Homo sapiens: one gene and its partners. The protein of the gene in region 1 purifies or fractionates together with the protein of each later gene. This does not show direct contact. Each region holds a gene or a part of one and is shown on either strand. Other genes may lie near its edges.

Region 1 (3,500 bases):
CGCAGATGCTAACATTCCACTCTATGATCGTGATCTTTTTCATTTTCCTTGTTCATTAATCTTATTACAGCAGTTCCTCAGTAACATCTTTACCACTAATCTTAAAATATGTGCGTGCTTGTACGTGAGCACAGACACACGAAGTCTTAAATGAGAGGGAAAATTTATCCTGGAAAAAAAATTTCTTGGCCAAGACTGAAATGTAGAAAGTAGGATAGATTTAGTCATTGTAATTCTCAAGTGCGTAATGAGGACCAGTGTGTTGAAATTATAATAGATAAACCAATATAATCCAAATTATCTGCAAATATTTTCTAATAACTAAAGCTGTCCTGAAATTGAAGTGAACCTCTGTAGACTAGTGAGTGCTTAGTTACTAAAAGTATTCAAGCAAAACTTGGTTCTCTATTTAATTGAGATGTGCTACAGCAGGGGTTAGCAAACTTTATGTAAAGGGTTAGCAGGCTTTCCAGGCTAGATGGGCTCTGTTGTAGCTTTTCACCTCTGCCATTAGAGCATGAAAATAAAAGCCATAGACAATATGTAAACAAATTGGCATAGCCATATTCTAATAAAACTTTGTTTACAAAAATAGGCAGGCAGCAGGCCACATTCAGCCTGAGCCTGTAGGCTGTAATTTGCTGATTTCTGCTGCAGCGGATGTTCCTTCATCATTGTTTGGGGTTTGTATAGGATGAATCCTATAGGTTCTTTTTTTTTTTTTTTTCCCAACAATGCTTTTGGAAAAAGAATTTCTACAGGTTCTGTCTCTTCTTATGGAGGACACAAGATAGGCATTTGTCATTCCACATTTTGCTAAGTAATTAGTATTTGTCTACATTTGAGGAGAAGGGAATAGAGTTTTATTGATTAAAGAAAGGCTGATTTTCAGAAACACAGGATACTATTTTAGATGATAAGAATTTAATACTTGTTACAATAGCTCTGATGGAAGAGAATGTTAAATTCTGTTTTAAGTAATTTTGTGTGCCTTCCCTGTACTTGCCATCAGTTTGAGCAGAATGCACTAGGCTTAAGAATTTGGAGTAAAATAACTACACTAAAAAAATTATTGAAAGTCTAAAATGTATATATATGCCTATCTCTTTTAGTATGCCTTTGTATATCATATGTTATTATTTTATTTTAAAAGTTATAATATTTGTAAAAACTAGTGAACAGGCAACTAATTTAAAAACTAAATCATGGTGTTCTTTATTTTGTTTTAGCAGAAACATACCACTTTTGAGCAACCTGTCTTTTCAGTTTCAAAACAGTCACCACCAATATCAACATCTAAATGGTTTGACCCAAAATCTATTTGTAAGACACCAAGCAGCAATACCTTGGATGATTACATGAGCTGGTAATTACTTTGGCCCCTTGCTTGATTGGCAGGGTGGTATGATAGAATTAACATGGGCTTCTGGGCCAAATAAATCTGGGATTAAATCCTGCTCTTTTACTTTAAAGACTTTCCATCTTCATATTATTTTTTCAGCATCAGTGTTTTCATCTATAAAATGGAAAGGGGGAAGTGGTTGCAATAATGCATATTTTTAAGGATTGTTGTGCATGTAGTTTCTGTCATATCGTAATCTGTACCTACAACCTATAAATATTCTAAGGATGTAAAACGTCTTGATAATCATGTATTGCCATACAGATATCTCTCTATTAAGAGAGAGATTTTAAAGGTTAGCATTCTTAGAGCAGATAAAGAGTAGATGAATTTTTTCACATAAGTGGTGTTAATTGGAAAGTGATAGCTTCTGGAAGAGATTGGTTTTTACAGTTCATGTAGTTCTGGAGGTATTCAAAGGTGTAGTATTTGAGTGAATAGGAATGATGGATAAGTGAAGAAGTTCGATGATGAGTGTGCTGATAGGGAACACAAGGGATACTACAAAAGAAAATGAATGACATTTCAGAGAAAGGAAATAAAGGGATGCGATACATTATAACCATCAACCGGTGGCTATATCTTTAATGTCTTAGGGGATAGCTTAAATCCGTGTTGTCTTTTGCGTTTCATTTTCATAATGTAATCCTTGATCTTAATTAGAACTGGTCTTAAAGATTTTATAACCCAGCCTCTTACCTACTTAATATAGTTTTACTATATATTGCCTCATTTTATTATATGTAGAATATTCTAAAGAATGATTGCTAACTAAAATAGCGATAATAGATATTTCTTGTGATACTAGGTTAATTATTGTTAACAAATATTTGTGGAGCTCTTTTGTGCCAAGCATTGTTCTAGGTGTTGAGGATATATTAATAGCAAAAAGGCAAACAAAGCACAAATGTATACTGGACAGATTTAAGCTCAAAGGCCAAACTCCTGTGATGTAATTGGCTTTCTGATATTTCTAGCAAGCCATTATAGAACATTATTGTTTAAAAAAAAACTCAAAATCTATGGCCGGCCACAAGCTGATGTTTGCTAAATTCATATAAAATAACCCTAACCACTTTGTATTTTAAATGCCATCTTTTCAAACAAAGATTTCTTGTCTGCATACAAATATTTACTTTCAGAAAGAATTCCCCAAAATTAAATATCCGGTGGTGGCATATCTGGAATAAGTGTCAGCTATATCATGAAAACTAACTTGGGTTCTGTTTGATGTAACACTTTTAAGTTTATATCAGTCTAAAATACATGAAACTGAATCAGACTTATTTGTTAAATTGTAATGTTTTAAATAAAAATATATATATATTTCCTAGTTTTAGAACTCCAGTTGTAAAGAATGACTTTCCACCTGCTTGTCAGTTGTCAACACCTTATGGCCAACCTGCCTGTTTCCAGCAGCAACAGCATCAAATACTTGCCACTCCACTTCAAAATTTACAGGTTCGATAAGCTTTATATATGATGGTATATGTTAAGATACAGTCCGTTTTACAGCTTTTATTTTTATAGCATCTAGTTATCAAGAAAGGTCTTAAGAACTTGGCCATTCTTATTTCCACTAGACAAAACTTTTCTGATATTCTAATAAGAGTGTGCCTTGTGGCTTTGAGAGGTTGGTTATTGAAGAAGCTTACGAAGCTACTCTTAATAACTAGGCCAAAGGATCCAGTTTGAATAGCTGGATAAAATTTCTCTTATGAATCAAGGTTACCTTTTATTTTTTATTTTTATTTATTTATTTATTTATTTATTTATTTATTTTTTGAGACAGAGTCTCGCTCTATTGCCCAAGCTGGAGTGCAGTGGCGCGATCTCGGGTGACTACAACCTCTGCTTCCCAGGTTCAAGCGATTCTCGTGCCTTAGCCTCCCGAGTAGCTGAGATTACAGGCACGCACCACCACACCTGGCTAATTTTTGTATTTTTACTAGAGACAGGGTTTCACCATGTTGCTCAGGCTGGTCTCAAACTCCTGGCCTCAAACCATCCGCCCGCCTCAGCCCCCCAAAGTTCTGGGGTTACAGGCATGAGCCACTGCGCCTGGCCAGCGTTACTTTTTGTTGTGTTTTGTCAGCTG
Region 2 (3,500 bases), on another chromosome or scaffold:
CAACAAGTCATGAAATATTTATTGTACTACTATACATCTGGCCCTGCCTTCTCCAAGAAGGTGCTAACATGTTTAAGGACTCTGAAAAAGAAGGCACTGATATGGTCATTTTTGGGGTGGGGAAGACTTTTCCAAGCTAGACAGATATTTCTCCTGCCCCTTAACTGGGAATATAAAAAATACATAACAGCAAAGGCTGCAGGAAATTGTATCCTAAGTCAGTAGCAAAAAAGGGTGTCCAATGCAGATTAAACTTGCATCTGTTTGGCCAGCACATGCCCACATCCACATTGGCTCAGAGCTATGGGAGTCACTACTGCCAGGCGGCAGAGGCAGCTGGGTGTCAGTGGAAGTGTTCAGACTCGAAAAACAGGTGATCGTGCATTCTTTCTGAATGTGCAAAATATGAATCAGATCATTTATAAAATGCCTGCAGCTGTTTGGTAGGGTACACAGGTACTAATTTAAAGTCTGATTCCACCCTACTCATACACACAAGTGTTGTATGCATGTATATGTGTGCACACACAGCACCAGAACAGCCAAAGGCCTAGGGAGGCGGAAAGCTTGTTCACTGTGTGTCTGTGTACGTGCACAATATCACCATTTCCCCAAAAGGATGAAACCTTGAGCAGCAGCTTCTGCATAACACTAGGTGGCATTTCATGTAGAAAAGAACAGGCAGGCACACTGCAAGTGTGAAGGTCACTGTTCGTGGTTACATTTACCCTCCTTGAATCTCGAGATCTCCTGGAGTGTGACCGCTGTTGGTGAGCCATTCCTGCTTCGGAGACTAAATCAGCATTGAACCCATTTGCATCAAGATGTAATGAACTAGATGAATGGGTGCCTAGAGATGATGCGGCGGGTGTGGGGGCTGGGGTATGATATCTAGGGGCTGTAGGGTTTCTTTCTGTGGGGATGAAAATAACCTGAAATTGATTGTAGCCATGGTTACACACTGTGAATATACTACAAGCCACTGAATTGTATGAGTGAATTATGTGGTATATGAATTGCATCTCAATAAAGATTCTTTTCTTTTTTTGAGACAGGGTCTCTGTCACCCAGGGTGGAGTGCAGTGGCACAAACACGGCTCACTGCAACCTTCACCTCCTGGGCTCAAACGATCGATCCTCCCAACTCAGACTTCCAAGTAACTGGGACTACAGACACGTGCCACTGTGCCCGGCTAATCTTTGTATTTTTTCTAAAGATGGGGTTTCACCATGTGGCTGGTCTCAAACTCCTGGGCTCAAGTGATCTTCCTGCCTCGACCTCCCAAAGTGTTGGGATTACAGGCATGAGCCACCGCACCCAGACTGACTTTTTAAATTTAAGGTAATAAACTCAAGTATGAAAGCAACTCATTCAATCCCTTTTCCAACAATGGAGCTTTTAGTCATCCCAGGTACTGCTGTACCTGTACATAAAACGGGAATGGCCATTTGCTTCTTTCTTATGTAGGAACTCATGCTGTATAAGGACTACTCTCCTTTCCAAAACATCCAGTGTGTCTGTATCTAAGGAAGGCATCATGGCCTTCCAAAGACCAATATCTTTCGCTGACCTTTCTGTTCCTTCCGCACCTCTGGTCTCATCTGAAGTGACTTTATCCATGACTCTTGGAGCATCCTTCTTAGGAACCGAAGGTAACATGGATGGGCCAGGCCTGGGGCTCTCTCTGGGATAATAAAAGAAAGCAATTAATAGGATAATGTAGATAGTAAGGCATTTCTCCTCATGTCCTATTGAAAAAGCAGATTTCTCAATTAAAGTTTTAAGTGGCTACTACAAAAAAAAAAATCCCTAGGAAAAAGGGCCCCCTGACTAAATAAATCCAGATTCAAAAGCAGATGTATCTGGACTCCAGAAAAATATATGACTGACTATAACCTATCACTTAATAGTACACAGCCAGCCAGTAAACAGTTGATACTTTTCCAGTGGTTTAAGTTAGATGAATTAAGGAACACAAGAAAAAGAACATAGTCAACAGCTCCCAGCCTCCAACCATGGTTCTCACATTTTTCAGAGCCTCAGGACATCCAGAGGGGGTAAGCAGGTTCATTTAGCAATTAGATATGGAAAACTCAGCTTTTAGAAAACCACTCACCTATGCGACTGACTTCTAAAAATCAGGCTGGGAATCACCTTTGAAACTGACCACACATTCCCGTGGGAATTTTTTCATTTAAGTACCTGTCAGTGTGGAGCTCTTCTGGAGCCAAATGTTGCAGCTTCGGGTCGTGAGTTTCGTCAGGCTCTGGAGGTGAGGAGACGCACACCTTCCCATCCCCAGCTGGAATGGGGCGCTCAGGCCCTGGCTGCTCCTTAGCCTGCTGGGGCCTGGCTGGGCTGTCCCCATGAAGGGCAGCTGTACCCTCCATCCCCGGAGCCTTGTCAGAGCAGGCTGGGTCCTGACAGCTTCCTGGCAGCACCAAGTCACCTGCCACAACGGAGAATGTCCTCGTAGTACCTGCTTCAGGCAGATCACCGGACGCACATGCCTGTGTCTCAGCTGTGCTCAGGGTGATGTCACCCTCTGCTTCCCCAGCAGCGCCTGCCACCTTGCCAGGCTCCAGGGGAGTGTCTGCCACTTCTCCAGTTGGTGGTGCAGGGGTGCTCTGGTTGCCCAGGGCATTTCGCATTTCCAAGATGCCAGCAGTGACTCCGGGTCTCCTTTCACCCCCAAGCGTGTCAAGGGTCCAGGGCTCACTGTTGGCCTCAGGCACAGTCAAAACCTCCCTCTGAGGAGAAGGGGCACACGTGGACCTTGGCACATGTCCTGGAACCCCTGTGTGAGCAAAGTCCCCGGGACCATCTTCTCCATGTGGACTGTCGCAGGCAGATGTTTCCTGGTGCTGCTTTCCAGAAGGAATTCTGTCTTGGGCCACGGCCTCTTCTCCATGGCTATGGGGAGCCACCTGGAAGGCAGCAGCTCTCTCCACAGGGAGCTCCTGAGTAGCTGCTGGTGAAGGAAGACCTGAAGCTAATTCCTGCCTGCTCCTCTCCAGCTGTGAGTAAGCCTGGCCTTCCAGGCCTGGCCAGGCTGCCCCAGGCCCCTCTGGCCTCTCGTCTTCCCTCAGTGTGGGTGGGACACCTGCCATCTCCTTCCCCACACCGGCACCTGGCAAGTTCCGCTCCCAGGTCAGCCCTGCTGGACCCAGAAGCTTGTCTGAAGCTGGATCTTGCAGAGCCAGATGGGAAATCTCAGCCTCTCCAGCCAACTGTTGCTTCTTCTCCACCTGGAGTCGAGCAGGAGGTGCAGGGAGAAGGGTGACATCCACTCCTGGAGGCCCATCTAGAAGCTTCTCTGGGCCCAATGGCCTGGTGAGGTCTTTACCCACTGCACTCCTCCCAGCTCCTGCCTTTTCTCCAGGTGTGGCCAGGGCTCCGAGCACAGGCTTCTCGAAGATCTTGGCGATGTGCTCCCTGAAGTCTGGGAAGCCAGTGAGGGTGGCGATTTGCTCAGAGCTTGTGTCCACACCACCTGATG
Region 3 (3,500 bases), 2.2 Mb from region 1:
TGATATCATAGTAGCCCAGTTTGGTTACGCACATATTTTCTGAATACATGCAAGAAAGGGGGAAGAGAAAGGGAGGAAGCAAATAAACAAGCAGATTATGAAGACAGTAGATTTATATATTTTTAATCCAAGTTGAAGAATTTTTTTCCCTTTGGGCAACAGGAAGTATAAGTTGAAAAGTTTTAAAAGCTAGTATGACACTAGATTTGCTTTTTAGAAAGGGAACTTTGGTTGCAGTATGGAGGATGTGTTTGTTGAAAGAGATGGAATCATGGATAATTGAGAATCCATCCACCAAAAATTTCCTGTATAATACAGCCAATATATTCAGTGGAAAATGTGTTGAAGAGAGGATGTAGTTCTTCAAAAACACTGAATATATGTGAAAAAGATTTCCATATTTTTCTAACTCCTTTTCTATTCCATTTACTTCTCAATCATTTTAGTAGTTTCAGTAAAGCCTTGATTAATGGTAGTTTATTTTTTTTTAACAGAGATTTTATCAAACCTTCACAATTCCTCATCAGATGTGTCTTATGTCTCTGATATAAATAGTGTGTATGAAAGAATTCGACTTGAGAAACTTACCTTTGCACATAGAGCTGTTAGTGTCAGCACAGATCCAAGTGGATGCAACTTTGCAATCCTGCAGTCAGATCCTAAAACAAGGTATACTTGTATATATTAAATTTCATTTTTTAGAAGGAACAATCACTGAATTTTCTTGTTTTCAGTAGCTGCTGGTGCAAATTTAATTGAAGAGCTGTTGCCAAGACCTATAGAGACCTTAGACATAATCATGTTTACAGATTATGTCTACAGATAATCCAGAGGTAGAATTTGTTATACTTGGAGTGATGAATGTTTCCTTTGGTTTATAAACTGACATTTATTGAAAATATTGAAAATATCTATACATGCACTCACAAAGTTTATTGTCTTTCTTTTTTTTTTTTTTTTTTTTGAGATGGAGTCTTGCTCTATTGCCCAGGCTAAGTGGCAAAATCTCGGCTCACTCTAACCTCCACCTCCCAGGATGAAGCAGTTCTCTTGCCTCAGCCTCCCAAGTAGTTGGGATTACAGGTGCCCGCCACCACACCCAGCTAATTTTTGTATTTTTAGTAGAGATGGGGTTTTGCCCTGTTGGCCAGGCTGGTCTTGACCACCTGACCTCAGGTGATCCGCCAGCCTCGGCCTCCCAAAGTGCTAGGATTACAGGCATGAGCCACCGCACCCTGCCTTATTTGTCTTTCATACTGTATGATGTACCCTGGGTTCTCAGATTCTGAAAAATGTATTATAAATATTTCTTAGGCAGTTTGCAAAGATTTCTGACCCTTGAATATGATGAGAATTGGCAAAATAAGTGTTGTGGCGCCATCTGTAAATCGCAATGCAAATCTCCTAAGTCACATAAGCAGAGAGGTATCAGATTAAGATAAACATCAAGGGTACTGTTGAAGAGGGAGGAAATTCTGCAAGTAGGGTCATCATCCATCCTGGTTTGCCCAGGCCTGCCCCAGTTTTAACATTGAAAGTCTCATCTGAGAAACTCGTCAGTCCAAGGCAAACCACAGGAGGGTTGGTCTTCCTACTGAGAAGGGTGAAATGTTGGTTGGGAAGGTGTAATTGCATTCCCACAGTACTGTAAGAACCAGGGATACGGACAACTTAGTTCTTATCATTTTAATTTGAGAGAAGAATAGAATATAAATATAAAAAGGAATAGAAAAAAATTAAAGGATGATATAGCATCTAGGACTTTGTGCAATATTCTTGTATTTTAGGAAATGCCAAATTTAAAATTTTCTAAATATTGTTAAAAAAATTGCATTTTAAAGGAGAATTGGCTAGGTATGAAAAAGGATTTCCTTCATATTTTTTGAAGCATAATTTGTTTTTGTCTTCTTTCTAGCCTTTATGAAATTCCAGCTGTGTCCTCATCATCCTTTTTTGAAGAGTTTGGCAAACTGTTGAGGGAAGCAGATGAAATGGACAGCATTCATGATGTGACATTTCAAGTTGGCAATAGACTCTTCCCTGCACATAAATATATTTTGGCAGTGCATTCTGATTTTTTTCAGAAATTGTTTCTTTCAGATGGTAATACTTCAGAATTTACAGATATTTACCAGAAAGATGAAGATTCTGCAGGGTGCCATCTCTTTGTGGTAGAGAAGGTTCATCCTGACATGTTTGAATACCTTTTACAATTTATATACACAGATACTTGTGACTTTTTAACTCATGGCTTCAAACCAAGAATACACTTAAACAAAAACCCAGAAGAATATCAGGGAACTCTGAATTCTCATTTGAATAAAGTGAATTTCCATGAAGATGATAACCAGAAGTCTGCATTTGAAGTTTACAAAAGTAATCAAGCTCAAACAGTTAGTGAGAGGCAGAAGAGCAAACCTAAATCTTGTAAAAAAGGAAAAAATATTAGGGAAGATGATCCTGTAAGAATGTTGCAAACTGTTGCAAAGAAATTCGACTTCAGTAATTTGAGTAGTAGGTATGATTTCTCTTTTATATCTGTTCCTGTACCTCATTCAGTCCTCCTTTAAAAAATTTCCCACCCTTACTGTGAAACCCCATCTCTACTAAAAATACAAAAAATTAGCCGGGTGTGGTGGCGGGCGCCTGTAGTCCCAGCTACTCAGGAGGCTGAGGCAGGAGAATGGCCTGAACCCGGGAGGCGGAGCTTGCAGTGAGCCGAGATTGCGCCACTGCATTCCAGCCTGGGCGACAGAGCGAGACTGTGTCTCAAAGAAAAAAAAAAAAATCCCACCCTTTTTGCCTTGCTTTGCTTTTCTTTCCCCTCCCCAAGTCTCCTCCCACTTGTTCCATCCCCTTCTCTTTCTCCTTCCCCTCCTCTTCCTCTCTCTCCCTTTCTCCCTACCCATCCTTTTTTTGGGGAGGTACATGGATATGTCTTTCCTCCATTTGCGGGCAGAGCTATCTCTGGGACTTCTTGGATTACATTAATGGATAGGAAAGCTGTTGGTGGGTTTGAACTCTGGTTTGTGTATGTAACAGGGATCTGGAGTGGCAGGCAATGTGGTATGCTGGAAAGGTCTTTCAAGTTAGACATACATATCTCTTAGCTTTACTATTCCTGGCTGGGACAATTTTCTTTTACCTCAGTTTCTCGAACTCCTGGGCTCAAGCGATCCTTCTTACTTCAGTTTCTCAATATAAGAAATGGGAAAGATAATATTTGCCTCATATTGTTGATATGGTTTTGTCATATGTAAATTGCCTAACACCATAGTATCATATTATGAATCAGATTATTTGAAATTCTTTCTTTTTTTAAGGTATTTATGTTGCTTGTGGCAGTTAAACCTTCGTTGTAGGGTGGGAAGAGAGGAGGGGTGTGTATCGTGTTTCCTGTTTAAAAATAATGAAGGGGCCGGGCGCGGTGGCTCACGCCTGTAATCCCAGCACTTTGGGAGGCTGAGGTGGGCAGATCTCCTGAGGTCAGGAGTTTGAGA
Region 4 (3,500 bases), on another chromosome or scaffold:
AATCTTCTTTAACACATTGCAAGCTCATTTACCACTTATAAATGCAGATTCCTCTTGGAAGGTGGTTCTCATCTCAGTTGCAGAAGCATCTGCGGTTGCATATCCCAGGCCTTTAAAAACTCTTCCACTCTCTTGCCACGTCTTTTGAAAATTTTTTCTTACTTCTTTAGGTGAATCAGAGATATCTAAAATATGTCCAGCAATGACATCCTCATAGGTTGGTGGGGCATGCTTGAAGTCACAGCCAGATTTGCCAGCTTCTGAGCTATGTGATGAAGAGGTTTTCATCTTCGACTCAACAATTTGACTCTCAAATGCATCCATGCCTGAGAAATGTTCACTTAGAGACCTGGTTTCAGAGCAGATCCTGGGCTGCTTAACAGGAATCTTTTCTCGCAGTTCTCTAGGATGTTTGCAAGAAAAGTCTGTAAAACTCGTGTTTCCTAAAGATGTTAATCCAAATTCCTCCTTACAAAATGTACGACTTTCTTGTTGTATGTTATGGTTTGTTTCTCCCTTTGCATAAACTCTTCTATTTGACTTTGCTTCAGAAACTGGGCCATGCTCAAATTCCCTGAACCATCTGTTTATTTCATTTTCAGGGTCATTCACGAAATTTTCAGCCATTTGAACAGTTCGGTTGGCCGCTTCATATCTCTGTGTGTGCTCTGACAGGCGAGGAGGCACTGCAACCTTGCGGATGATTTCAACTGCATCATAACTTTCAGTGTCGGGCACCATGTGATCAGTGGAATTTAGTCCATCTTTATGAACATAAGTAGCTCTCTTCTCCACTTTCCTGATTTCCTCTTGAGCGTCCACAGATTCTCTGAAGGAACCACTAGCAGCATGATTTATATTTACTGGTATTGTGATTGTAGGTGGAGAGTCCCTACCACGAGTTTCTATCTTAATTTGACGACGAAGTGTTGCAGGAGACATGATGATTTCAGACCTCTTCTCTACAATTGGAACCGGGGTTGCTGCTGGACATGGGATGGCCCCTTTGGATAACTTTGCAGTGGTGTCTTTGAGTCTGACAAGTTGTTCAGAGCGACTCCTGGGTGGAGAAGGGGAAGTGTTTGCTCTGTGAATTTCAGATTTTTGCGACATGGGCCTTCTTGGTGGGGGTTCAACATAACTGTCCTTTTTAGGGGACTGAGAAAGCTCGTTCTTAGTAGGGTTTTCTGTTCGTCGGGCAGTAGATTCTATTGTGATAAAAGTTGGTGACGGTGGGCGTGTTTTTAAAGAGGGAGGAGGAATGTTGCTATCATCAAGTTTAATTTCCTGATGGGTTTTCACGTGACTACGAACAGTTGCTTCATGATGAGCTGCTACTTGGTGCTGTACTGTTTTCTCTTTGGCAATTTTATTTTCTTTCTGTTCACTATTTTTATTATTGCTGACATGAACATTAGATACTTTGGATGATGTTTCATCAAGACTAGTGGGTTTATTTCCCGGTTTTCCTGTTTTGGAGGACATCATGGCTGTCTGAATTATATTTTCATAGGACACAAGCATATCTTCCGCTTGAGTTTTAATATGTGTTATTTCTTCTTTTACTTTTTCTAAATTATTCTCCATGGCAATGTGAACTGCATATTCTCTCTTATCTTCACTTATCAGCCATCCTGGGATAGTATTTAATAGTGTCTGAAATGTTTTAAGGCCACTTTTATTTGGCTCTGCTTCAAACTGTTTCACTCTCGACAAAATCTGTTGCAGTTCTTCACGTTTTCTCAAGAATTCCACTATATTTAAGGCACCTTTTCCATCATCCCGCTGGGATTCTTTCACAGAGGAAAAGAAAGATTTGTTCTGTGTAATCTCTTGCTTTGAATCTTTAGTATTAGAGAAGACTTGTTTCTCTTGTATGCCCTTGACTTCGAGACATTTTTCTTCCTGCAGACTATTATATGGCTGGGGCAATTTTTTATGTTCAGCTTTACTTTCAGCGGTCTGTATTTGTGTTTGCTGAAAATTCTGAGTCTGTGAATCAAGATGTGCATCGATAACCTTTTGCTTGACGACCTTTGGTGCTGATTTATTCTTCAGATGTTCGTGTTTTCTTTCAGTTATTAATCTCTCTTCTTTTCGACCAATCATTGATGGTCCCTGATTTTTTTCTTCACTTCCTGGAAGTTTCCCTCTGTCAGATCCGCTAAATTCTCTTTGCTTCCTGGGAACCATCTTGAGCTTATCTTCCTGGTTCTTCTGTATGGATTCTGTAGGCAATTGTACTGTCACTCTTTTCTCCTTCTTAGGTAACTGATAATGTCTTTCAGCCAGAGATTGCTTATGACTACATTCAGTGCTTGCTTCAGTTTTCTTGGTTTTCAGATATTGTTTTTTGGTAAAGGTTTGAACATCAATCTCAGATTGCTGTTTATGACTTTCATAGCTGTGGTCTGTTTCATTTAATGTATGATCTAGAGTTGGAAGTTTGATGGTTTTAACTTTGAAATTTGGGGAAATTGGTTTGCTTTGGGGCAAGTGCAACTGCTCCAAATACTTCTTCTGTTGTGTTTGTTGGGTACTACATTCTTGGTGACTTTGTTTAATTTCGCAAGCTGATTTGGATTGCATAATGTCCCTTGAGCTTTGTAAAACTTCCTTTTTCATCTTATCTTTGTCTTCTGAAGCTGCTAAAACATGGTGGAGCCTCTTGGCAGCGACTGTTTCTGGCGATGTTGTGGAGAGTTGGTTATCAGAACACACTCCTAGTATCCGAGCATTACTTTGAGAGCCTGGGCTGGGTTGAACCACAGTGCATTCTGAATCAATTCCAGATAGGGAAACCTCCTCATTGGTTTTTTGTAATGGCATTTCCTTTTCCACCTCTGTTATGTGTTGATTTTGGCTTTGAGTTTTAACAATGTTGTAGTAAGAACTCTCCTGTTTCTGTTTTTCAATTTCTTCTTTTTGTTGTCTATATTTTTCTTCAGCAATCATTAAAGGTGTCTTAAATTTTCTCATATAAGGTTTTGGATTTTGTTGTCCTGAACTCTCTGGAAATGAATGAGATTTTATAAGAGGCGCAATCTGTTTTTTCCTGGGTGCTGAAGTTCCTGGAACTGTGTGTGAGAGACAGTTTGCAGAGTCAATAGATAATTGTTTTCTTTCATCAAGACTCTTACTAATAACGTTCTGCTTTGTCTCCGTGTGTTCACTGCTGGTCATCACCATTACTTTTTTCTGATCCTTTGAGGTAGTAATTTTACATTCCATATCTGACAGGGAGGTTGCCAGTTCAACTTTGGGGGAAAAATCGTTCTTATTATCTTTTATATGCTTGGGAAGTTTGGGTTTGGGCAATGTGGGAGGTGGCAACACACCGGTTTTTCCTGTTATGATTTTAGCCTGAGAATTCTGAGAGTTCGAGGCTTCTTTTTGGGAATATTGTTGCATGAAGTCTCCACTGTGCTTTTCCGGAGCAGAGGAGGAAAGGAGATGTGCTGGCTTTTGAGATGGAGTTGGAGGAGGAGGAGGCGGCAGAA

Evidence for each region. Proteins that work in one complex are often made in the same cells at the same time.
Region 2: the proteins of TTK (region 1) and TACC2 purify together in Homo sapiens (affinity purification with western blotting; one study listed by BioGRID and IntAct). This does not show direct contact.
Region 3: the proteins of TTK (region 1) and IBTK purify together in Homo sapiens (affinity purification with mass spectrometry, with the first as the bait; one large-scale study listed by BioGRID). This does not show direct contact.
Region 4: the proteins of TTK (region 1) and XIRP2 purify together in Homo sapiens (affinity purification with mass spectrometry; one large-scale study listed by BioGRID and IntAct). This does not show direct contact.

Annotation. Positions count from the first base shown.
Region 1 is NC_000006.12:80,025,149-80,028,648, forward strand, and holds part of TTK (dual specificity protein kinase TTK), read left to right. Parts: intron 1-1,229; coding exon 1,230-1,366; intron 1,367-2,736; coding exon 2,737-2,863; intron 2,864-3,500.
Region 2 is NC_000010.11:122,086,663-122,090,162, reverse strand, and holds part of TACC2 (transforming acidic coiled-coil-containing protein 2), read right to left. Parts: coding exon 2,204-3,500; intron 1,686-2,203; coding exon 1,572-1,685; coding exon of another isoform or gene 1,425-1,571; intron 1-1,424. UniProt on the Homo sapiens protein: Plays a role in the microtubule-dependent coupling of the nucleus and the centrosome. Involved in the processes that regulate centrosome-mediated interkinetic nuclear migration (INM) of neural progenitors.
Region 3 is NC_000006.12:82,213,245-82,216,744, reverse strand, and holds part of IBTK (inhibitor of Bruton tyrosine kinase), read left to right. Parts: intron 1-494; coding exon 495-669; intron 670-1,915; coding exon 1,916-2,518; intron 2,519-3,500. UniProt on the Homo sapiens protein: Acts as an inhibitor of BTK tyrosine kinase activity, thereby playing a role in B-cell development. Down-regulates BTK kinase activity, leading to interference with BTK-mediated calcium mobilization and NF-kappa-B-driven transcription.
Region 4 is NC_000002.12:167,248,480-167,251,979, reverse strand, and holds part of XIRP2 (xin actin-binding repeat-containing protein 2), read right to left. Parts: coding exon 33-3,500; intron 1-32.